7 linked regions of the Homo sapiens genome follow. The protein of the gene in region 3 purifies or fractionates together with the protein of the main gene of each other region. This does not show direct contact. Each region holds a gene or a part of one and is shown on either strand. Other genes may lie near its edges.

Region 1 (3,500 bases), on a different chromosome or scaffold from region 3:
CATACAACACCGCTGACTGGAAACGCAGCTCAATGGAGTTCACGTCCCTGACCACGTTGGTAATATCAAAGCTCTAAGTTAAAGGGAACAATCAGACAAACCCATGATGTGGAAGTAGTCTTGTGTGTAAAATTTTAGATAAAGGCATTTTGTATGAAAGACACATAATATAATGCCGATCTAGGTTTAGCCTCCTTGCAGGAGGGAACACTTCTCTGAAACACTGTAGTATCTATCACTTAGTTGCCCACTTTTAGTTAAAACTAAGCATATTTTCCTACCCAATCCAAGTTTCTAGGCTTCTCCTTCTATTTTTCCTGGCAAAATGATGGTCCTAGGGAAATGGATAGAGCAAAAAATAACTTTAGCTCTGGAATGTCTGCTCTGTCTACTTATATGTGGCCTTGAACTGCCAAGGGTTTCCTAGACACTTCATGACAACCTGCCTCTCCGGTATGAACAGCATGCATTTCTAAGTAATGAGTTATTTTTGTTTTGAAAAGTCTACCTTTGAAAGGAAAGGAAGATCAGCATATAATCTCTTAATATAACTATTCCAGAAAGGAAATGACATTTTATTTTAAAATCATTTGTCCAATGAAACTGTATCAGCAGAGGAGGGATTGGCATGTTTTGAACACTTCCTATGTGCCAAGAACTTGCCAACATTTTATACAATTAGCTTACTAAATCCCCACACTAACCCCATGGGGTTTGTAAGGTTTCCATTATTCCACAAATGTGGCAACTGAGAAATCAAGTAACTCATCCAGTGCTTTAATGAGCTCATATTTGTCACATGGCCAATTATGCATTTACTTTTCTCTACTCACAAAAGCAATTAACATAAACACACATAAATTTTTTTTAACCTAATGTCATTATATACTTACATATCTATTGAACATATTGTCTGTTTCCCCAATAGTGACTTCATTGAACAGGATTTTTGAAACCGTATCCACTCCCTCAAGAATCAAATTTACTTTTTGCCATTTGCTAAAAAAAAGAAAAGATTTTTAAAACAAGATGTGTAAAGCATTAACTTAGATAAGTCTCTTTTTTATTATTTAAGGCCTAAAGAAATAAATATTCCACAAAAAATATATGTTCTTAAAAGGCAGTTTCCAGTGACATTTTCAGAAGTACTGCTTTAAAACATACTTACGTCCTTTGAGTGATCCAGCTTATCTTTCTCTATAATGTATCAATAAATCACCATAAAACCAAGAGCACAACTTATAATTTCCAAATATATTGACTTTTTCTAGTTAATACTTCAGAAAGCTATTATGAGAACCAAGTTAGGCCAGGAGCAGTGGCTCACGCCTGTAATCCCAGCACTTTGGGAAGCCTAGGCAGGCAGATCACCTGAGGTCAGGAGTTCGAGACCATCCTGGCCAACATGGCGAAACCCTGTCTCTACTAAAATTACAAAAAACTAGCCAGGCGTGGTGGCGGGTGCCTGTAATCCAAGCTACTAGGGAGGCTGAGGCAGGAGAAACACTTGAACCCAGGAGGCGGAGGTTGCAGTGAGTGGATATCCCACCACTGCACTTGCAAGATTCCGTCTCAAAAAAAAAAAAAAAAATGAGAACCAAGTTAAATAATAGACATAAAATGTTCTCACAAACTACATTTACTGACCCTGTCTAAGAGAACACGTTAGAAAACTATCATCTATAAGTGAATATTATGCACCCAGCACTCTGCTAAGCCTTACAGGAAACTATAACAGTGCCTGTACTTAAGGAGTCTGCAATCTGGTTGGCATTTGGTGGCTGGCTGGCAATATTGTTGAACAACTACAAGTGCTATCAGAGTTTATCTCATAAGAAAAGATTTCAAAATGGAAACAAGAACTTAATGAAGAGAAGAATAAATAAAATGTGTTGTATTCATACAATAAAATACTATTCAACAATAAAAAGGAATGAAGTACTGATACATGCTACAACATGGATGAACTTTGAAAACATTATTATGCTAAGTGAAAGAGGCGGTCACAAAGGCCCACATATTGTATGATTCCATTTATATGAGGTATCCAGAACAAGGAAATCCAGAGGGACAGAAAGTAAATTAGTGGTTCCTAGGGCTGGGGTAAGAATTCAGGGGCAGGAGGAGTGGGCAATGGGAAATGACTGCTAATGGGTGTAACTTTTTGTGGGGGGATGAGGAAAATGTTCTAAAATTGATTGTGGTGATGGTTTTGTAACTGTAAGTATACTAAAAACCATTGAATTATATACCTTAAATGACTGAATTGTACAATATGTTAATTATATATCAATAAAGTATTTTTTTTAAAACTAGGTAGAAATGACTGGGTGGAGGCATTTCTACTCCCCTTATACCCTTTGCTCTTTGCAGGAACCCCTTACCCCTGCAAAGAGCAAAACCAAAACAAGGAAGTGCTGACAGCATGAATTACTTTTAGGTAATCGACTCATATGTGTAATTTGGGCTGGGGAGCTAAGGAGGAAAAAGCTGGACAAATCCAAGGGGCAGAGAGGTGCGGGCAGTGTTACAGGGACAGACATCTTTCAGCTGTATTTTCACAGACAAGTGAGAAGTTTATACTTGATTTGCCAAGTAAAATAGACACTTGCTATTCTTGAACGAATACCTATCTTGGCACAATCAATATTCTGTGATGATTAATCTAATGTTTCTAAATTGAAAAGATTGGAGAATAAAAGAACAAAGCAAGAAATTTGATTAGGCAGCTTTGGCCTCTTTCCTGGCACTCTTCTAGGCAAAGATGGAAAGATGGAAATGAGATGGAAGGGGCCAAACCAAGAGAAATGTTAAACAAAAATTTGCAAGACCCACCCAGAACAGACTGAACACAGGAAGATGAAGAAAAGATGTAATAAGCCCAAAGCACCTTAGACATAGACTGGAAAATGGTGTTACATCAAGAAAAACAATGAAGCTGTTAGAATATAAAGTTAGTTTTAAGGGGGAAAATCAATTGGATATGTTGAGTTCAAGGTGAAATAGAACCATTACGAAAGATATTCTAAATATTATCTGTAAATAAAAGCCTGGAGCACAGCAGTAACTCCATGATATTGATAACAATATTCTGGCCTTTTCCCCCCTTTAAAAGACTAGTAAATAATTACCAAAAAAAAAAAATCACATAAAAGGGACAGAAGGATTTTTTTTTTCATTTAGCAGTAGTGGTGGTACCTTTGGGTAACATTCTACCTCATATGGAAATATTTGCTTATAATAACAGAACATTACTGAAAACAGTATCTGTGCTTCACCTCCTGGCTTCACCACATAGTATAGGTCAAGGTCATAGTCTCAATGGCTGGTTAGCACTACATAGGGCATAACCACTGGAAAAATGACTCCATAAGACACAATTTGGTGACTGTTGATTAGTAGCACCATCCTCATATACAAAACAAAACATAAATAATATATTCACTTTTATAGTACAAGGCTTTCATCTTACTTAACTCTCAGATATGTAACCTAAACAA
Region 2 (3,500 bases), on a different chromosome or scaffold from region 3:
ATGACATAACAATAAGATTTAATGAGTACCAGCTTTGTGCTAACTACTTTTCTATAACTGGACAGTCCTGATCAGGTTTAATCTTTAACTCTGAAGTAGGTGAACAAGACAGATGCAGTGTCAACCCTCCTGAAACTGACAGTCTTTATGGGTAACAGATAAGTACCCAGGTGCTGTGGCTTGGATATGGTTGGTTTGTCTCCACCAAAACTCATGTTGAAATTTAATCTCCAATGTGATAGTGTTGGGACCTAGTGGGAGGTGTTTGGGTCATGGGGGTGGATCCCTCATGAATGGCTTTGTGCTGTAGTGAGTGAATTCTTGCTCTTTTGAGACTGGATTAGTTCCCATGGGAATGGATTAGTTCCTGTGTGAGTGGGCTATAAAGCCAGGATACCCCCCCAGTTTTGCCTCTTCACACAGGTCTGCTTCCCCTTTGATCTTCTCTGTTATATTATGACACAGGACAGAAGCCCTCGCCAGAAGCTAGAGCCATTCCCTTGAACTTCCCAGCCTGCAGAATCATGAACTAAATAAACTACTTTTCCTTATAAATTGCCCAGTCTCAGGTATTTTGTTATAGCAACACAAAACGGAATAAGATACCAAACAATTACAACACAGAGAGATAAGCCTGAAACGGGAAGTATTGGCTGCTTTCAGAGGACAAAAAAGGGCCTCTTAACCTAGTTTGGGGTAGGAAGCAGACAGGAATGGGCTTCTATTTTATTCAGCAGATATTTACTGAACACCTACTACCTACCGAGTACTATATTGGTATTGGGAACATAGCTATAAATAAGACATGATGGGCTCCAGGAGAGTGTCAGTGGTTTGAAATGGCTTTGGTAGGGAATAGAAGAGCAAACAGATGAGGTATTTGGAAGGACTATCTGCTGGACCAAAGGACCACCACCTTTTCCTGGGCAGTGCTGCAGGCACCCTTCATGCAGCTCTATACTCTGGTTAACAGAGTCCCTTTTCAGGCAAGATAAAAGATTATTAGATTGCAGCTTTCCTTTATATCCCAGTCCTGAGTATTTTAGTTTGCTCATTTTGATTGGCTTAAGTATTTCTTAAATCAACTTTGATAACATATATATAGGCTGGGTGCAGTGGCTTACACCTGTAATCCCAGCACTCTGGGAGGCTGAGGCGGGTGGATCACCTGAGGTCAGGAGTTTGAGACCAGCCAGGCCAACATGGTGAAACCCCATCTCTACTAAAAATACAAAAAAAATAAAATAAAATTAGCCAGGCATGGTGGCGGGTGTCTGTAATCTCAGCTACTCAGGAGGCTGAGGCAGGAGAAAAGCTTGAACCCAGGAGGTGGAGGTTGCAGTGAGCCAAGGTCATGCCACTGTACTCCAGCCTGGTCAATGAGAGCAAAATTCTGTCTCAAAAAATAAATAAATAAAAAGAAAATTAGCTGGGCGTGGTGGCAGACACCTATAATCTGAGCTACTTGGCAGGCTGAGGCAGGAGAATCGCTTGAACACGGGAGGCAGAGGTTGCAGTGAGCCGAGATCATGCCACTGCACTCCAGCCTGGGCGACAGAGTGAGACTCCATCTCAAAAAATCAACTTTGATAACATATATACAGACTTTTTTAGTGAGTTACAATTTGAGAGTTATCTTGTTGAAACTGATCCTCCCCGTTTACTGATTTTACTCCATCAAATATTATCTATCCAACACATTTTTTCCTTTAATGTACCTATGGCATTTCAATATAGCTTTATTAAAATAAAATTGACACAAAACAATCTGTACATATTTAAAGTATGCAGTTTGATGAGTTTTAACATTTGTATACACCTGTGAAAATAGCATCACAATCAACATAATGAACATATGTCCATCACCCCAAAAAGTTTCCCTCGTCATCCCTAGGTAACCACTGTTCTGCTTTCTGATATTACAGATTTGTTTGCATTCTCTAGTGTTACATAAGTAGAATCATACAGTATGTACTTTTATTATCTAACTTCTGTCTCTTGCCATAATTATTATGACTATTTATATTGCATGTATCAGCAGGTCATTCCTTTTTTTGCTGAGTAGTATTCCAGTGTATGAATATACCACATTAGTTTCCTTATTCACCCATCCAATGGTAGACATTGGGTTGTTTCCAAGTTTTGGGCTACTACAAATAAAGTTCTTATGAACATTCATTTTTCAAATACCTATATGGACATAATTTTAATTGCATTTGGTAATAAATTTTGATTTATATTTACATTGATTATATACTCTATTACTTATATTTATATTTACATTGATTTTTTTTTTTGAGACAAGGTCTCCCTCTCTCTTCCTGGCTGGAGTGCAGTGGCATAATCACGGTTCACTGCAGCCTCACCCTCCCGGGCTGAAGCAATCCTCCCACCTTGGCCTCCCTAGTAGCTGGGACCACAGGCATGTGCCACCACTGCCTGGCTAATTTTTTAATTTTTTGTAGACAAGGTTTTGCCATGTTGCCCAGGGTGGTCTCAAAACTCCTAGACTCAAGTGATATACCCGTCTCAGCTTCCCAAAGTGCTGAGATTACAGGCGTGAGTCACCATGCCCAGCACATTGATTTTATATGATCTTAAATTCAGTACCTATTGTGTTAGATACCATGCTAAGTATTTTCATATTGTTAGATTTATGGTACATTTGCCAGGCCCAAATTAGGAAAATATAATGACAAAAAGATTTTTTTTAATCAGTACTATCCTGGAAATATAGGACATGATTATTATGGTTTATTGTTTGTTCATAGTTTGCTGTGTCATAGATTCATATCTTTTCTCTTTAATGACTGTATGGCCTTTGAGAGAAACATACCCCCTATATACTATAGCAAATAGCATATAGTAGCTATTTGCTAAATTTTAAATAACTTTCTGCTCTCATTTATCAAAATAATCGTTCTTTTGCCTCACAGGTTTCTTCCAAGGTGAAATCCAGTCCCACCTGGTATTCAGCATCTTCCTTCTCTTCTTCAGTGGTGAGTTTATTTGGCATAGAGGTTGACTTCTGAGAAGGAATTCAGTATAGTTTTGGGTATCTCTATCTTCTTTACATAATTGTCATCAGAGTGTATGTGAAACTTTCTAGTTTTTTCCTCCTTTTGGATTATTTCCCTCCTGAAATGGATTACCATGTCAAAAGATACAAACATTTTCATGGCTTCTAGAGGTTCTGCTGACCCTGCCAGATAGTTGTCTTCTTCTTAATGACCTTTAGAGTGGTTTTTACAGATCATCTGTCTGTCAACCACTTCCAGCATCTAAAATCTAATAAATAAGGACTATTGCTCAAATTCTTTCTACACAGAAGTATGCACACACTGTACCACAGTAGGTCACCATTTTTTGGTTCATAGACCGCTTTAAAAATTTAGTGTCCCAGCACTTTGGGAGGCTGAGGCAGGTGGATCACGAGGTCAAGAGATCGAGACCATCCTGGCCAACATGGGGAAACCACATCTCTACTAAAAATACAAAAC
Region 3 (2,350 bases):
CTCAAAAAACAATAATAATAATAATATTGAGTACCTACTGTATGGCAGTGTGCGTGCAAAGCATTTTATAAGCTGTATCTCATTTCATCCTGAAAAAAAACCACGCATAACCTTCCAATGCACTTTTTGAGGAGTTCTTGAGGCTGAGATGCTAAATAATGCATCTGAGGGTCTAGGCCTGCAAAGCAGAGTGTACCCAGGAATACCATGCTCCACTGACACACCACACACAGCCCTGTGGTTGTTGGCTGCCTGCGTAAAAGCCTGCCTTAAGGGTCAGAACAAAATCAAAGTTAGTGTCATCTTCACCCTCAGACATCCCTCATCACCCCAAGAGAGACAGGCCTAAGGGCCCTTCTCCAGGGCTGAGTCTCTGTCACTCCAGAGAAGCCCTGTCTGGCTCCACTCTGGACACTGTGCATCCAACCTTGAACACAGCACTGAACCGACTCTTCTAAGGGAGAGTTTCAACTCCTCAACTCCAAAAAAGAAATCTCTCCTAGAACCTTCAGAGTCCCCTCATCCTAGCCAACGTTTCATACCAGCCATTTGGAGAACAAAGTCCATCAGTGAACTTTTCCAGGACTTTTTTTTTTTTTTTTTTTTGCAGTATCTGCCTTCAGCCAGGTAAATAAGTCAGCTGCTAGACAAGGAAGCTGTCCCTTCTCCACTAGTTCTGAGCCCCTACCTTCTCTTGGTCAGGCCACTGGTTGACAATTTGAGAGACTCCGTGTGTCGGAACTGTCTTTCCAGGCTTAAATTCAGCCTGTGTTTCATAACACCCTTTCTCTGCGCTCCTGAGCTTTCAGTGGTGCTCCAGAGGAAAGGAGAGACAGAGCAGACATTTTCACTGCCATGTTTATATCAAAGTACATTTGAAGGCAGAGGGAAAGCGCTCAGGCCTAGGCATGGGGATCCTGGTCTTTTCTCCTATTCTGCTATCAGGAAACGTGACAGCCTTAGCTGAGTCTCTGGTTTTCCCGCGGTTTGTAGAAAAGGAGGTAGCACTGAAAGGCCAGGGCCTTTTCTTCCTCGAATTCTGCAGAACCCTGTGATCTCCTCAGTCTGCCCCTCCAGGAAGAGTGAGGCCAGGGTCCAGCCCCACCCATCGCAGCCCAGCCCAGCTCTATAAAGGAGCCTCCCAGGCAGACACCACTGGGAGTTCCAACTCTGTGCCCTCTTCGGCCATGAACCTCTGTCTTTCTGCATTACTCTTTTTCCTGGTGATCTTACTGCCTTCAGGTAAGACAGTGGGCGTGAGTCTGAACATAAAAGTGGGTGTTCCCAAAGATTGAGATGCTTAAAAAACCCTCTAACTATAAGCCCAGCAACAGGACACCAATATCAAATGGGCCACCATGTTAGGGGCATGGTGAGCGGACCCCAGCTCCTGCCCTGCTCTGCTGTTGCTGCAGCTGGAAGATCTGCCAGTGCACCGGGGACGGGGGTGGATGTCATTGTGCACACAGATCGTGCAGCCACCCAGATTCCTATCTCCCCTCCAATGCCTCTGGCTACCCTGAGCTTTATCTGCCTTGCTGAGTTGTGATAAGAGGTGAGGTAAATCACAACTAACAAGCCATCAACCAGGAGGTGATGGCAAGCCTAGGATTTCTCCCAGCCTCATTAAGATTGATTTTTCTTTTCTGTGGTCTCTCCCCGCTTCAGGAAAAGGTATGTTTGGGAATGATGGAGTCAAAGTTCGCACCTGCACTAGCCAGAAAGCCGTATGTTTCTTCGGGTGTCCGCCAGGATACAGGTGGATTGCGTTCTGCCACAATATTCTGTCTTGCTGTAAAAATATGACACGTTTTCAACCCCCGCAAGCCAAAGATCCATGGGTTCATTAAAAGGATATGTGAATGGCTCAAAGTACTACACTCCTAATCTGTGTGTCAGGATCTTAGAGCTCGTAAGTGAGCCATGGGCAGAAATGAGGACCACATTCTGACAATTTACTGGCAAAATTCCAGAAACATTTTGTAAAGGCAGCACTGCCATGAAATGCATCCCCTGTTATTTTTCCTACCCTCCCATCTCCAATCACTCATTCCTCTTTCAAATTCAAATTCAGGCCAGGCGCAGTGGCTCACGCCTGCCCGCCTGTAATCCCAACACTTTGGGAGGCTAAGGTGAGCAGATCACTTGAGGTCAGGAGTTTGTGACCAGCCTGGCCAACATGGTGAAACCTCATCTCTACTAAAAATACAAAAATCTTCCGGGTGTGGTGGGTGCATGTAATCCTAGCTACTCAGGAGGCTGAGGCAGGAGAATTGCTTGAACCCGGGAGACGGAGGTTGCATTGAAAAGAGATCACGACACTGCACTCCAGCCTGGACAACAGAGTGAG
Region 4 (3,500 bases), on a different chromosome or scaffold from region 3:
AAACAGAGACAGAGACAGAGACACAGAGAGAGACACAGAGAGACAGAGACGGGAACAGAGACAGGCAGACAGAGACAGAGAGAGACAGAGACAGAAACAGAGACAGAGGGACAGAGACAGGCAGAGAGAGACAGAGAGACAGAGACAGAGACAGACAAACAGAGACAGAGAGACAGAAACAGGGACAGAGACAGAAAGAGAGAGAGACAGAGGGAAACAGAGAGAGACAGAGACAGATAGAAAAAGACAGAGGCAGAGAGAAGCAGAGACAGAGAAACAAAGACAGTCAGAGACAGACAGAGACAGAGACAGAAACAGAGACAGAGAGACAGAGACAGAGGGGCAGAGACAGGCAGACAGAGAGACAGAGACAGAGACAGCGAAACAGAGACAGAAACATACAGAGACAGAGAGACAGAGAGAAGCAGAGACAGACAGAGGCAGAGAGACAGAGAGAAGCAGAGACAGGGACAGAGACAGAGACAGAAATAGAGAGATAGAGACAGAGGGACAGAGACAGAGAGATAGAGACAGAGAGGGAGACAGAGAGATAGAAGCAGAGAGAGAGAGACAAAGACAGAGGCAGAGAGACAGAGAGAGAAGCACAGACAGAGACAGACAGAGAGACAGGGACAGACAGAGACAGAGAGACCGGAAACAGAGGCAGAGAGACTGAGAGACTGAGAGAGACGGGGTGGTTTTCCCCACAGCATCAACACCAAGCAGGGCTAGGATCACTGAAACAGACTCATCAGACCCGAAGCATGCGCTTTCTCGGGGTTTTTCTGGACTGAGGGGTTTCCTCTCATCCCAGTGTCCAGCTGTGGGGACGCAGGGGCCGCAAGCCCCGGAGTGTCCAGAGGGGAACGTGGCCTCCCCACACCCAGCCCTTCACGAGGCCTCAGGATCCCAGTGGGGGTACCCGAGGCTGCCCTGTCCAGCCAGGCGGTGCGGGGGGTTTGGGGAGAGCCTCTCCCCGAGGTCGGTCTCAGAGGGCCACATGGCCGGTGTGGGCCGGACATTCCCTTTCCAATGGTTGTGCCCACTTCCCTCCAGAGTTGGTGCCAAGCTGGGACCTGGGGGACTTGGAGTCTCAGGAAGTCGTCCGCTGTCTGCAGGGGGTGCATGGGGGATGTGGCCACACACGTCAGAGTGCGGCCCCCTGTGGAAGCCACAGACAGACACGACTCCCCTAAATGAGCTCGCCCTTCTGGCCGAGATGCTCAGCGTCCCCAGCAGGCTGCCCGACTGCCCTGCGATACTGCCCTCCTTCCTGCTGCTCCCACTTTCCCTTTCGGGGGGTTGGATTTGGGGCATTCAGGGATCGCCCTGTTGTTTGCTCATCACACCCATTTCCTGCAAGAGCCACGGTGACCGAGCAGCCTTGAGTTGAGGCAGCTTGTGGGTAGACGCGGCGGGCATCTCGGAGGGGCACGCTCCCTGCCACCCTCAGCCTCCACTCACTGGTCAGGGGCTTTGCGCCCCAGGGCACCCCAGGAACCGAGCCTCCTTTGGGGTCATGGGTGCCTCTCCTGGGAGGGCGTGGATTTTCCAAAGCAGTTTAGAGAAATGAGACCCACAGGCGTTATTTCCCATGGTGAGGTTCTTTTCAGTAACCCCCACCGTATAGCCAGGATCAGCAAAGAGAGGCGGCTCCTCCCGGTGAGACAGGGACCAGCACCTCCCGGACAGGCTTGGGTCTCCCTCCAGTTCCCCCACCTAGTCTCGAGGTCTCACGCTGCCCTCTCCTGTCCAGGGGCTCCCACCTGAAGGAGAATAAGTACCTGATTGTGGTGACCGACGGGCACCCCCTGGAGGGCTACAAGGAACCCTGTGGGGGGCTGGAGGATGCTGTGAACGAGGCCAAGCACCTGGGCGTCAAAGTCTTCTCGGTGGCCATCACACCCGACCACCTGGTAGGCACCGGCCCCCCCCGGCAGATGCCCCCAACCACAGGGAGTGGCGGCTGCAAGGCCCCCGGCAGCTGGGACCGTCTTTTGGTCCTCGGGAGGGTGTGGGTTCTCCAGCCGGCCACCCTTGCCCCTGAGAGGCCAGCCCCTCCTGCTGAGGAGCCTGGAGCGCCCCAGCCCAGCCTCCCCTCTGGCCCTGTGGGAAGCGGCCCCGGCCGTCAGGGGTCCCAGCCCTGCTCAGCCCACCCTGAACACTGCCCCCAGGAGCCGCGTCTGAGCATCATCGCCACGGACCACACGTACCGGCGCAACTTCACGGCGGCTGACTGGGGCCAGAGCCGCGACGCAGAGGAGGCCATCAGCCAGACCATCGACACCATCGTGGACATGATCGTGAGGCCCCTGCCCAGGAGACGGGGAGGCCCGCGGCGGCCGCAGGTGGAAAGTAATTCTGCGTTTCCATTTCTCTTTCCAGAAAAATAACGTGGAGCAAGTGGTAAGAGCCCTCCCCACCACCCCCAGCCGTGAGTCTGCACACGTCCACCCACACGTCCACCTGTGTGTTCAGGACGCATGTCCCTATGCATATCCGCCCATGTGCCCGGGACACATGTCCCCTGCGTGTCTGCCCGTGTGCCCGGGATGTGTGTCCCCCTGCGTGTCCACCTGTGTGTCTGCCCATGTGCCTGGGACATGTGTCCGCCTGTGCGTCCATCCGTGTGTCCGTCTGCCCATGTGCCTGGGTCGCATGTCACCCTGTGTCCCAGCCGTATGTCCGTGGCTTTCCCACTGACTCGTCTCCATGCTTTCCCCCCACAGTGCTGCTCCTTCGAATGCCAGGTGAGTGTGCCCCCCGACCCCTGACCCCGCGCCCTGCACCCTGGGAACCTGAGTCTGGGGTCCTGGCTGACCGTCCCCTCTGCCTTGCAGCCTGCAAGAGGACCTCCGGGGCTCCGGGGCGACCCCGGCTTTGAGGTGAGTGGTGACTCCTGCTCCTCCCATGTGTTGTGGGGCCTGGGAGTGGGGGTGGCAGGACCAAAGCCTCCTGGGCACCCAAGTCCACCATGAGGATCCAGAGGGGACGGCGGGGGTCCAGATGGAGGGGACGGCGGGGGTCCAGATGGAGGGGACGGCGGGAGTCCAGATGGAGGGGATGGCGGGGTCCAGATGGAGGGGACGGCGGGGTCCAGATGGAGGGGACGGCGGGGTCCAGATGGAGGGGATGGCGGGGTCCAGATGGAGGGGACGGCGGGGTCCAGATGGAGGGGACGGCGGGGTCCAGATGGAGGGGACGTCGGGGCTCCAGATGGAGGGGACGGCGGGAGTCCAGATGGAGGGGACGGCGGGGTCCAGATGGAGGGGACGGCGGGGTCCAGATGGAGGGGACGGCGGGGTCCAGATGGAGGGGACGTCGGGGCTCCAGATGGAGGGGACGGCGGGAGTCCAGATGGAGGGGACGGCGTGGTCCAGATGGAGGGGACGGCGGGGTCCAGATGGAGGGGACGTCGGGGCTCCAGATGGAGGGGACGGCGGGGGTCCAGATGGAGGGGACGGCGGGGTCCAGATGGAGGGGACGGCGGGGTCCAGATG
Region 5 (3,500 bases), on a different chromosome or scaffold from region 3:
TATATTTTTACCCTTCTTTAAGGAAACTGAGTCTTAAGAAGGTTTGGTAACTTGCCCAAGGTGGTACAGCTACTAAGTGGTGGCCTCAGAATTTCGATCAAGTCAGCTGACACCAGAGCCTGCACTCTGAACAACTAGACTGCTTGGGGCTGGACAGTTTGAAATCTTTGCCCACAGATGTCTCTTAGCTGTTACTTGTTTAACTGAAGTACTTTTTCAAACTGTCCTTAGCCTATGGGATAAGGTCCACTCATGAGGACAAGATATGCACACACAAAGCACTAACTCAGATGGCTCAACAACAAAATCCAGCCTCCACGATGAGGAGAGGCACCAGAGTCGGGGGGTGGGGGTGGGGGGCAGCAGATGAATCAAGAATTGCCAAAGATTGATAATTATTGAAACTAGGTGATGGGTACAAGTGGGCTCATCTTACGCGTCTCTGCAATGACAGGGTCACTCCAGTAGAGGGAATGACTGTCTAGCCAAAAAATGCCAAGAACACTCCCCCAAGAAACCATGAAAGCTAAAAGGATTGCTGAGACAGACTTTCAACGACATGGGTAAAGCAAGAGTTAATATGGGCGTGGCTACATCTTATCCCAGGCCTTTAAGGTTACTCTAGGGCCAATAACAAAATAGAGGCTTTGAACACGAAAGGTGCTCACCTGATATTGTGTGTTCATGTAAAAGACATTCATTGCATCCCCAGCCTACCAGCTTTGTCAAGAATAGCCATGTTGGGTCAGAGTTAAAAACAAAATAAGGCCCAGATTTTTAATGTTCACAATTCTTTCAGATACCTCTTAAGAAATAAATTAGTTTTTAATTGATGTGTATGATGTTTTAAATTTTCAAACCTATCGAAAAATGTTTTTACAAGTGCATTTCTTGAAGTTATATGAGTATTACCATTATAAAATGTGAAAGGTAGAAAACATAATAAAATTGAAAATAAAATTATTCTTTATCAAAAAGCTATGTACTAAAATGGCATTTTTCACAGGATGATCTAATGACTTATCAAAACAATAAGGAAAATATGTTATCCTTCGGACCCAAACATTCTGTAAATATCATTCTGAAAAGAGATTACATGCATTTATTCATTTCTCAGGAATGATTCTACATTCCTTGAAACTGTAACACTTCCGTAATCAAGTAAAAAATTTTTCTATTTATCAGCTTTACCTGCTATTTGTACTGAACCATCCTCACCCAGAAGAATATTACCAGCTTTCAAATCCCTATTAGAAAAAAAAATAGAAAATAAATTGTAGGGTACAGACTTTATAGTGTATTGATTCACTCAGGAAGATTTTAAAACATATCATACAACGCAGCTCTTTGACATAATAATTTCATAAATATTAAGATAATAGCACAGATTTTAAAAGTTATAAGGATAGGCTGGGCACAGTGGCTCACGCCTGTAATCCCAGCACTTTGGGAGGCCAAGGTGGGTGGAGCACCTGAGGTCAGGAGTTCGAGACCAGCCTGGAAAAAATGGTGAAACCCCATCTCTACTAAAAATATAAAAATTAGTTGGGCATGGTGGCAGGTGCCTGTAATCCCAGCTACTTGGGAGGCTGAGGCAGAAGAATCACTTGAACCTGGGAGGTGGAGGCTGCAGTGAGCCAACACCGTGCCACTGCACTCCAGCCTGGGCAACAAGAGTGAAACTTGGTCTCAAAAAAAAAAAAAAAAAAAAAAAAAAGGTATAAGGATCCACCTGTCACTTTATAGTTTACTCGTGGGGGAGAGTTAGGATTTTAGAAAGAAATATTTTCTATGAAATAATTATCCAAATTTAATTAAATCATCAGTAAATAGACTCTCTATTTTATGCTTCAGAGTTAGACACTGCCCATAAACTCACACTACTGTCATTCTACCAAGTATTAAAGCCCAGTCTATGTAAAGCTCCTCTACTTCCACTTAAATTTGGGATGCAATTCCAACTTAATTATCTTTCTGAAAAATGAACTTCTCTCTGGTGAGAGACTGATTATAAATACTAATTATAATAATAGATATTATATTTCTTCACCGTATAAAACCTGTGTAATCTTAGTACTTTGAAAAATGACAACTTGCAATTTATAAATTTGATTTCTAAAGTAACTTTTTTCTAATTATTGAAAAATATAGGCCAGCCACAGTGGCTCACGCCTGTAATCCTAGCACTTTGGGAGGCTAAGGTGGGCAGATCATCTGGGATCAAGAGTGTCAGTCCAGCCTGGCCAACATGGTGAACCCCATCTCTACTAAAAATACAAAAATTAGCCAGGCATGGTGCCGCATGCCTGTAATCCCAGCTACTCGGGAGGCTGAGACAGGAGAATTGCTTGAACTCGGGAGGCAGAGGTTGCAGTGAGCTGAGATCACACCATTGCACTCCAGCCTGGGCAACAGAGCAAGACTCTGTCTCAAAAAAAAAAAGAAAAAGAAAAATATAGTAGAAATAATTAAATATAAATTTCAGGGTAGGAGAATTACATTATTAGTATTACTGGTAAATGGCTATTTACTTGCAATAATTCCTAAGAGCCCAAGTAGCACTCACTCACTTGAAACATCAAGCACTCATATTCTATGTGATTTGACTATGTAAAGAATTAACATTTTATGTCACAAAAGAAGATGAGTACCTCTTCCTTCCCTCTCACCACCACATCAAAAATAATTCACATAGTACAATGTTTGGATAGTCTTGCTTGTATTAGAAAGATAGAGATGCTGTCTAGTTCAACTAGTATAATTCAAGAGTAGTTACCAAAACTGATCTTTTTAAATGAGTCCATGTAGTCCTTTTTAGATTCCACTCTTATTTCAGTGAAAGCAACTGAAGCAATCCCAAGGATACCAATATAATTCATCAAAATTTATTCTCTTGTTTCTTTCTTAAGTACTTTTTTCCCATCTATTTAGACTAAGTTAAAGTAATGTCAATACCTGCCTGCAACATGTGTTTCCTTAACATTCTTTACAAACTAGGGCTGAAGATATGAACATCTGAATTTAAACATCTCTGCAGAGGTCACACCTGTGAATCTGACCGTTTCTGTGTAGACAGTCTAAGCCTTCCAAAACCTCTTTAAGATATGAACATCTGAATTTAAACATCTCTGCAGAGGTCATACCTGTGAATCTGACCGTTTCTGTGTAGATAGTCTAAGCCTTCCAAAACCTCTTTAAGAATTGTTGCTATTATTGCCTCTTCCAGAACTCCATTCTTGTGTTCTCCTCGGTTGACAATGTATTTTATGATATCCAACATTGAACCTAAGTAGACAAACAGAAGAATTAAAACATAAGCACCTTCATCACCTTTTCAGAACAAGACTCCATTATGTATAAAATTTAATAGAAACATCAAAATATGGGCTTTATTTAATGCAAATATTCCCAAGGCAAACAAACAATTGAATGGGGGCCCCATGACCAAAAACACTAAATCCAAGTTTGCAAGAGCACTTTCAGTGTGAATTTAACGAGAA
Region 6 (3,500 bases), on a different chromosome or scaffold from region 3:
TATTGATTCCATGTGCGTATTATCAGACAATTGCAAAATAAGGCCACTTAAATTTTTCCTAAGATAGAATGGCTCACTTAATTGTTAATTTTCTAGCAGCCTGGAATTGAAAGATATATAACTGGATGTTTAAGCTTAACAGAATAGTATTTTTTTTAACTTTAAAATATGGTATGCTTTTAATTTTTGATCGTGCTGCCACCCTAAATGCCTTTTTATCACATTTATCATAATTTGACATTCCAAATGAGTTGTAACAAATTAATAATTACATTAAAATGATTACTTTACAGAAGTATTTTATTGGAATAATAACATAAGTTTTAGATCCCAGTATTTCAAATGACATGTAGTAATACTTGGTTATTTGGTAATTTTTCTTTTTAATTGTAGGTGTCTGTGGAAGAATTAGAACATAGTATTAGCATTAAAATAGCTAAAGAAGCTGTGATGGATATAAATAAACCTGGACCCCTTTTTAAGCCGGAAAATGGATTGCTGGAAACCAAAGTATACTTTGCAGGATTCCCTCGGAAAGTGGAAAGTGAACTCATTAAACCGGTAATGATCCAAGCTTGTATCATTCATCATGGATGAGTTCCTTTTGTCTGTAATAGATTTGAATATGTGTGTTTCTGAGAATCAATAGAAGTTGTTTTGTTAAGCATACTAAGTGTGACAACTTGAAATGATCATGGAAAAATAACATTAGTAACCCTTGAAATTATATTAATGAAATAAAAAAATGACGTAGTGGTTTTGTGCCCATTTAAATCCCCAGCATAAATCATGAAGTGGATTTCTAAAATTCTCAAGTTAACACTTGAGAATGTTAACACTAATGTTAACATTAGTAATGTAATGTTCAGTGTTAACATCATGATAATCCATACTCAGTTGTTAAACATATAAATTCATATATTTAAGTCCAAAATTACACCATTTTGTAAAAGCCAGTCAAAGGACTTTCTCAAGTCTATTTTTAGGACTTAAATGCAAGAGCTAAAGAATAGCACATAAGGTGAAATTTATTGTTAAATATTTACTATCTTACATCCGTCTTTCATTCTCTGGAAATTCGTAGTTACTTTAACTTTTAAAAGATTTCCATTATATGATATTAAGCTTGAATTAATTAACCCATGTTGACATGAGTATACCTGTTGTTTGAAACTGAGAAATTAATACACTTTAAAAGTAAAATAAATTATTCAAAAAGTATCAATCATTTATGAAACGGTTATTACATGTCTTGAGCCTGGCAGGATACTTGATGGAGGCTAAAGAATGCAAACACTTTTGTGTCTGAAGAGACTTAGAGTCTGATTGGCAAGACAAACCCATATTATAAATGCCACTAAAGAAAAACAAGGCCAGGCGTGGTGGTTCACACCTGTAATCCCAGCAATTTGGGAGGCCGAGGCGGGTGGATCACCTGAGGTCAGGAGTTCAAGACCAGCCTGGCCAATGTAGCAAAACCCCATCTCTACTAAAAGTACAAAAATTAGCCAGGCGTGGTGGTGGGCACCTGTAATCCCAGCTACTCAGGAGGCTGAGGCAGGAGAATCGCTTGAACCAGGGAGGCAGAGGTTGCAGTGAGCCAAGATCCTGCCACTGCACTCCAGCAAGACTCCATCTCAATCAAACAAACAAAGAAGATAAACAAGACAACTTAGAGCCCAGGGCCACAGCTAGAAGCAAATATAGAACTTGAAAGCAGAAAAGTTACCACTGGATGATGTAGGAGAGGCAGGTGGGGCTTGAAGTGTTAAAAACCATTAAGATCCCACTGAGGGCTTGTGATAGTATGAGCTTGCTTGTACTGAAAAAGACTGTCCATCTGAAGAATACTTTGAAAAGAAAAACTTAAATAAAATTCAAAATATTTTCAACTATTATCAAAGAAAGGATTTTTTTTCTCTTAATGAAAACCTATACTCATAATCGAGCCACTGTTTAAGTTTAAAATGCACTCCTTGACTTGTATTTTAATTTGTTAGATTAACCCTCGTCTAGATGGATGTATACGAAGCTGGAATTTGATGAAGCAAGGAGCTTCTGGAATAAAGGAAATTATTCAAGAAAAACAAAATAAGCATTGCCTGGTTACTGTGGAGAAGGGCTCCTACTATCCTGGTTCTGGAATTGCTCAATTTCACATAGATTATAGTAAGTGATTTTCCATTTATCTCTATTTTCTCATTAATGAGTAAATTTATTCATTAACAAACAGTAATAATTTATTTGTGAAACATTATTGAGTATCTACTGTGTGCCCACTCTAGTCTTATGCTTATTCATACTATTATATACCTTTTACAAAAATTTTTCAGTGTATTGGGAAAAATATAAAGGCATTTGAATGTGCTTGTGTTGTTATTTCAGGTTTATCAGTACATAGCCTGATTCCTTATGGGTAAATTCAATTGACCTATTTTAAAGTTCACTGATTTCTCACTTGTATGGAGTCTATCAATGAATGCATCAGAAAGATTCATCTTCATTTCTAGCATTTCTATTTGATGCTTTCTTAAAATTTCTACCTCCCTGTTGAAATTCCCTATCTGTTCACACTTGTCTAGTTTATGTACTGAGTTTTCAATGTATTCATCATAATTATTTTAAATTCCCTGTCTCGTAGTTCCAACTGTGTCATATCTGAGTCTCGTCATTTTGTTTGCTTTGTCCCTTGACCAAGTGTTGTTTTTCTTGCATCTTTGTGTACCATGTAATTTTTGGTTTAGATTTGGGCATCTTACGTATAACAGTAGAGACTGAGATAAAGAATATTTGTGTCTGGAAATGAGCACATTTCTTTTGCTAGGCTCTTAGTAATGGGATTGAATCAATCTAGTGAAAAGTTGAGCTTCTTAAGTTTTGTTGGTGCCAGGATTACCCTTAATGCACCACAGGTTTCAGATCTTTTATTTTGTTTTGTTTTGTTTTTGAGATGGAGTCTCACTTTGTCACCCAGGCTGGGGTGCAGTGATGCAATCTTGGCTCACTGCAACCTCTGCCACCTGGATTCAAGTGATTCTTCTGCCTCAGCCTCCTGAGTAGCTAGAACTACAGGCGCCCGCCACCACGCCCGGCTAATTTTTGTATTTTTGTGTTTTTGGCCAGGCTGGTTTTGAACTGCTGATCTCATGATCCACCCCCTTGGCCTCCCAAAGTGCTGGGATTACAGGTGTGAGCCACCGCACCCAGCCTCAGATTTTCAAAATACTACCTTCTGCTTAGAATAAGGGAATGGTTTGGTAGCTAGTTTTTCTTTTTCTTTTCTTTCTTTTTTTCTTTTTTTTTGAGACTGAGTCTCACTCTGTCACCCAGGCTGGAGCTCAGTGCCACAATCTCGGCTCACCGCAACCTCCACCTTGCAGGTTCAAGTGATTCTCATGCCTCAGCCTCCTGAGTAGCTGGAATTACAAGGGTGCGCCACCATGCCCTGCTAATTTTTGTATTTTTGACGAGGTTTTGCCATGTTGGCCAGGCTGGTTTCA
Region 7 (3,500 bases), about 82 Mb from region 3:
GTGCAACCTCTGTGGAAAGCAAATTTATGGTGTTTATCAAAATTAAAAATACAGATTATCTTTGCCTGGAAAGCTCTCATCTAGAAATTTCTCATTTGGATACACTTAACTGTATGCCTGAAGAAGTGTTGAATGTTTTTTTCTTGCAACATTATTCCTAAGACAAAAGATTATAAACAAAATAAGATTCTATCAAGATGAGATCAATCAATTAAATTATGATATAGTCATACAATGGTATAGAATGCAATTGTGGAAAAATAAAGAGGCAGTTCTACACATAGTGCTATGGAAAGAAATCTAAGATATATTGAGTAAAAAAGCAAGATTTGGAATAATTTATTCATTCATCTACAAATGTTTATTGAGTACCTGCTATTTATCAGCACTATTTTATGTACTTGGTATTCCACTATTTAGCTTTTTAAAGACCATTATATATGCATATGTGCTTGTATATGCACAGGTTATTTCTGAAAAGACTCATAAGAAACTGTTAACAATGCTGCCTCCTGAGTGAAGAACTGAGTGCCTGGGAATAGTGGGAAAGAGACTTAATTTTCATTTTAAATCTTTTTTTGCTTGGTGCAGTGTTTCACGCCTGTAATCGCAGCACTTTGGGAAGCCGAGGTGGGTGGATCACCTGAGGTTAGAAGTTCAAAACCACCCTGGCCAACATGGTGAAACCCTGTCTCTACTAAAAATAGAAAAATTAGCTGGGCATGGTGGCAGGTGCCTGTAGTCCCAGCTACTTGGGACACTGAGGCAGGAGAATCACTTGAATCTGGGAAGTGGAGGTTACAGTGAGTGAGATCACGCCACTGTGCTCCAGCCTGGATGACAAGAGCGAAACTCTCTCAAAAAATAAAATAAAATAAATCCTTTTGTGCCTTTTATTTTTATATTTCATATATTACCCAAAGATTAATTTTTTAATTATCTTTACCTTTTTTTTTTTTTACTTTTTAACAATTTTTTTTTTTGTGGTGATGGGGGTCTTACTATATATCTCAAGCTGGTCTTGAACTCCTGACCTCAAGCAGTCCTCCTGCCTTGACCTCTCAATGTGTTGGGATTACAGGTGTGAGCCACCATGCCTGGTCTTATTTTTTCAGAGACGTGGTCTTGTTATGTTACCCAGGCTGGATTCAAACTCCTGGGCTTAAGCAATCTACTGCACCCAGCTTCTTAGTAGTTTCATTGGCACTGTTGCCTCCATTGAAAATATTAACTTGATTCTCACGGTATTTGGGGGGTGTATTCTTAGGGATGGGACTAATGAAAGTTTTATGAGTTGGATGGCAATATGAAATTTATTACACTTCATGATGTACTAATTTTGGTGTGTGTGTCTCTGTGTGTGCACATTCAGAATTTTTTTTCCCTGTTTTATTATAAGGATCTACACTATATAGCCACAGGAAACATAAGTGGTATGTTTGCATAAATGTTTCATACACAAATATTGTTCTAGCATACTTTTTTCAGTTAACGGTATGCTCTGATGCTCTGTTAGATTTACCTGATTCTTTTTGTTTGTTTGTTTTTTGAAACAGGGTCTCACTCTTGCCCAGGCTGGAGTGTAGTGGTGTGATCTCAGCTCACTGCAACCTCCACCTACCAGGTTCAAGTGATTCTCATGCCTCAGACACTTGAGTAGCTGGGATTACAGGCACGTGCCACCACACCCAGCTAATTTTGTATTTTTTTTTTTTTAGTAGAGACAAGGTTTTGCCATATTGGCCAGGCTGGTCTTGAACTCCTGGCCTCATGTGATCCACCCACCTTAGCCTCCCAAAGGGCTGGGATTACAGGCATAAGCCTCCTCACCTGGCCTTACCTGATTCTTTTTAATATATTCCATAGTATTTTGTAGCATGGATATACCATCATTCTGCTATTTTAAATATTCGTGTTGTTTCTAACAAATAATGCCTCAGTGAATATCCTTATATACATGTTCAAGTGTTTCTGTAAGTTAGGTATCTAAAAACAAAATTGTGGTGTTATAAGGATGTGAATTTGAAACTTTAATAGATACTACTAAAAGCCTTCTAAGTTGCAGAAACTTATCAGTAATCTATGAAAATACTTGCTTCCCCATCCTAGTGTGACAGAAATGTATAGATAAGAGGTAAGAAAATTTTTGAGGAAAAAAATACTGACTTAATTGTTACGATGACTTGGAAAATGATTTTCTATATTTTACTATGTGAGAATAGGGAAGGCATCACTTCTCTTTTTTTTTGGAGGCATGGACGGGTACGAAGGGATCACTTCTCTACACTTTATTATGGAGATACTTGTTATGCCTTTAATGCAAATAAAGTGTTTTGAGAATTAATAGAATAATAGTTACAATTGGGTTTTGTTAAATATTTTCTGAATATGTAGAAGCTTATATGTTTACTATGAGTTACATCTTTATTTTGTTTCTAAACTGTTCAGTGGAAAGAGACATTAATGGAACATTGTTGTCTCAAGCAACTTGTGAGCTCTGTGATGGAAATGAAAACTCTTTTATGGTAGTAAATGCTTTAGGAGACAGGTAAGCAGTGTGATGGGGGCTAACTTCATTAATATCATCTTATATTAGTGTATAATTTGTACTTTTAAGAGTGTTTTCCTATCATATCACTTAGTTTTCACAATAACCCAAGGAAGGATAGAAGTAGACATTAACAGATACAGAAGCTGAGGCCCAGAGCGTGAGACACACTAGGGTTCAAATTTTGGTCCAGTCTGTTAGTTGTCTGACCTTGGATAGCTCACTACTTCACAATCCCTTGTCTTTAGAATGGTAATGTTACCACCCACTTCATAGGCTGTAATGGCTCAGAAATAATAAGTAATAAAGTAAATAGATACAGTTCTTAGTATAGTGCTACATAGTAACCACTCTGTACAGGGTAGCTATTTTTGTTTGTTGTTACATAATTTGTATATAATCTGTAATATAATTATGTGCTAAGTACTGTACTAAAGCCCTTATGTATTATAATGTTACATAGAAAAACATAAATGTATGCTAATAATAGCCCAGGTACCCTGATTTATAGTCCCATTTTCTGTTGCTTCCTGTTCCCCCTTTGTGCATGTATTTGTGAAACACACACACACACACACACACACCCCTGCCTGCCTATATACTTCCCTCTAATTTAAGCACATTATACCAATTTCAGCATCTTTAATTTATTAGAGGCCTACATCATGACTTCCCTCCGGGCACAGTTTTTTCTTTAGTTTCCAAGTTTAATATGGAAAATAGTTGAGCAGCTTTTCTGAGGGCTACTTAGTGTTGGATCATCTTTTCTCTAAGGCTGACCTGAGTTATGGCATCCAAATACCAATTTTTTTTGCCCAATATTTCCCCAAGCCTAGTGTGTTTTATGTCATGCCCCAGCCCGACTCCTACCTGCTCTATTTTGCAAGTGATGAATACCCATATATTCACTCATCACTGTCCTCATTGGACCAGTACCCTCCCTCCCTCTGTC

Evidence for each region.
Region 1: the proteins of DEFB136 (region 3) and MANBA purify together in Homo sapiens (affinity purification with mass spectrometry; one large-scale study listed by BioGRID and IntAct). This does not show direct contact.
Region 2: the proteins of DEFB136 (region 3) and ALDH6A1 purify together in Homo sapiens (affinity purification with mass spectrometry; one large-scale study listed by BioGRID and IntAct). This does not show direct contact.
Region 4: the proteins of DEFB136 (region 3) and COL6A1 purify together in Homo sapiens (affinity purification with mass spectrometry; one large-scale study listed by BioGRID and IntAct). This does not show direct contact.
Region 5: the proteins of DEFB136 (region 3) and STK39 purify together in Homo sapiens (affinity purification with mass spectrometry; one large-scale study listed by BioGRID and IntAct). This does not show direct contact.
Region 6: the proteins of DEFB136 (region 3) and PROS1 purify together in Homo sapiens (affinity purification with mass spectrometry; one large-scale study listed by BioGRID and IntAct). This does not show direct contact.
Region 7: the proteins of DEFB136 (region 3) and TMEM67 purify together in Homo sapiens (affinity purification with mass spectrometry; one large-scale study listed by BioGRID and IntAct). This does not show direct contact.

What each region holds. Positions count from the first base shown.
Region 1 is NC_000004.12:102,722,969-102,726,468, forward strand, and holds part of MANBA (beta-mannosidase precursor), read right to left. Parts: intron 1,000-3,500; coding exon 894-999; intron 74-893; coding exon 1-73.
Region 2 is NC_000014.9:74,074,454-74,077,953, reverse strand, and holds part of ALDH6A1 (methylmalonate-semialdehyde/malonate-semialdehyde dehydrogenase [acylating], mitochondrial isoform 1 precursor), read left to right. Parts: intron 1-2,936; coding exon 2,937-2,999; intron 3,000-3,500. UniProt on the Homo sapiens protein: Malonate and methylmalonate semialdehyde dehydrogenase involved in the catabolism of valine, thymine, and compounds catabolized by way of beta-alanine, including uracil and cytidine.
Region 3 is NC_000008.11:11,973,437-11,975,786, reverse strand, and holds DEFB136 (defensin beta 136 precursor), read left to right. Parts: upstream 1-1,187; coding exon 1,188-1,242; intron 1,243-1,668; coding exon 1,669-1,850; downstream 1,851-2,350. UniProt on the Homo sapiens protein: Host defense peptide that exhibits antibacterial and antifungal activity. Exhibits antimicrobial activity against E.coli, S.aureus and C.albicans (in vitro).
Region 4 is NC_000021.9:45,984,770-45,988,269, forward strand, and holds part of COL6A1 (collagen alpha-1(VI) chain precursor), read left to right. Parts: intron 1-1,756; coding exon 1,757-1,916; intron 1,917-2,174; coding exon 2,175-2,303; intron 2,304-2,385; coding exon 2,386-2,406; intron 2,407-2,729; coding exon 2,730-2,750; intron 2,751-2,840; coding exon 2,841-2,885; intron 2,886-3,500. UniProt on the Homo sapiens protein: Collagen VI acts as a cell-binding protein.
Region 5 is NC_000002.12:168,160,596-168,164,095, forward strand, and holds part of STK39 (STE20/SPS1-related proline-alanine-rich protein kinase), read right to left. Parts: intron 3,286-3,500; coding exon 3,144-3,285; intron 3,138-3,143; exon of another isoform or gene 3,127-3,137; coding exon of another isoform or gene 3,047-3,126; intron 1,248-3,046; coding exon 1,192-1,247; intron 1-1,191. UniProt on the Homo sapiens protein: Effector serine/threonine-protein kinase component of the WNK-SPAK/OSR1 kinase cascade, which is involved in various processes, such as ion transport, response to hypertonic stress and blood pressure.
Region 6 is NC_000003.12:93,883,397-93,886,896, reverse strand, and holds part of PROS1 (vitamin K-dependent protein S isoform 2 preproprotein), read left to right. Parts: intron 1-393; coding exon 394-561; intron 562-2,000; coding exon 2,001-2,169; intron 2,170-3,500. UniProt on the Homo sapiens protein: Anticoagulant plasma protein; it is a cofactor to activated protein C in the degradation of coagulation factors Va and VIIIa. It helps to prevent coagulation and stimulating fibrinolysis.
Region 7 is NC_000008.11:93,761,394-93,764,893, forward strand, and holds part of TMEM67 (meckelin isoform 1 precursor), read left to right. Parts: intron 1-2,448; coding exon 2,449-2,548; intron 2,549-3,500. UniProt on the Homo sapiens protein: Required for ciliary structure and function. Part of the tectonic-like complex which is required for tissue-specific ciliogenesis and may regulate ciliary membrane composition.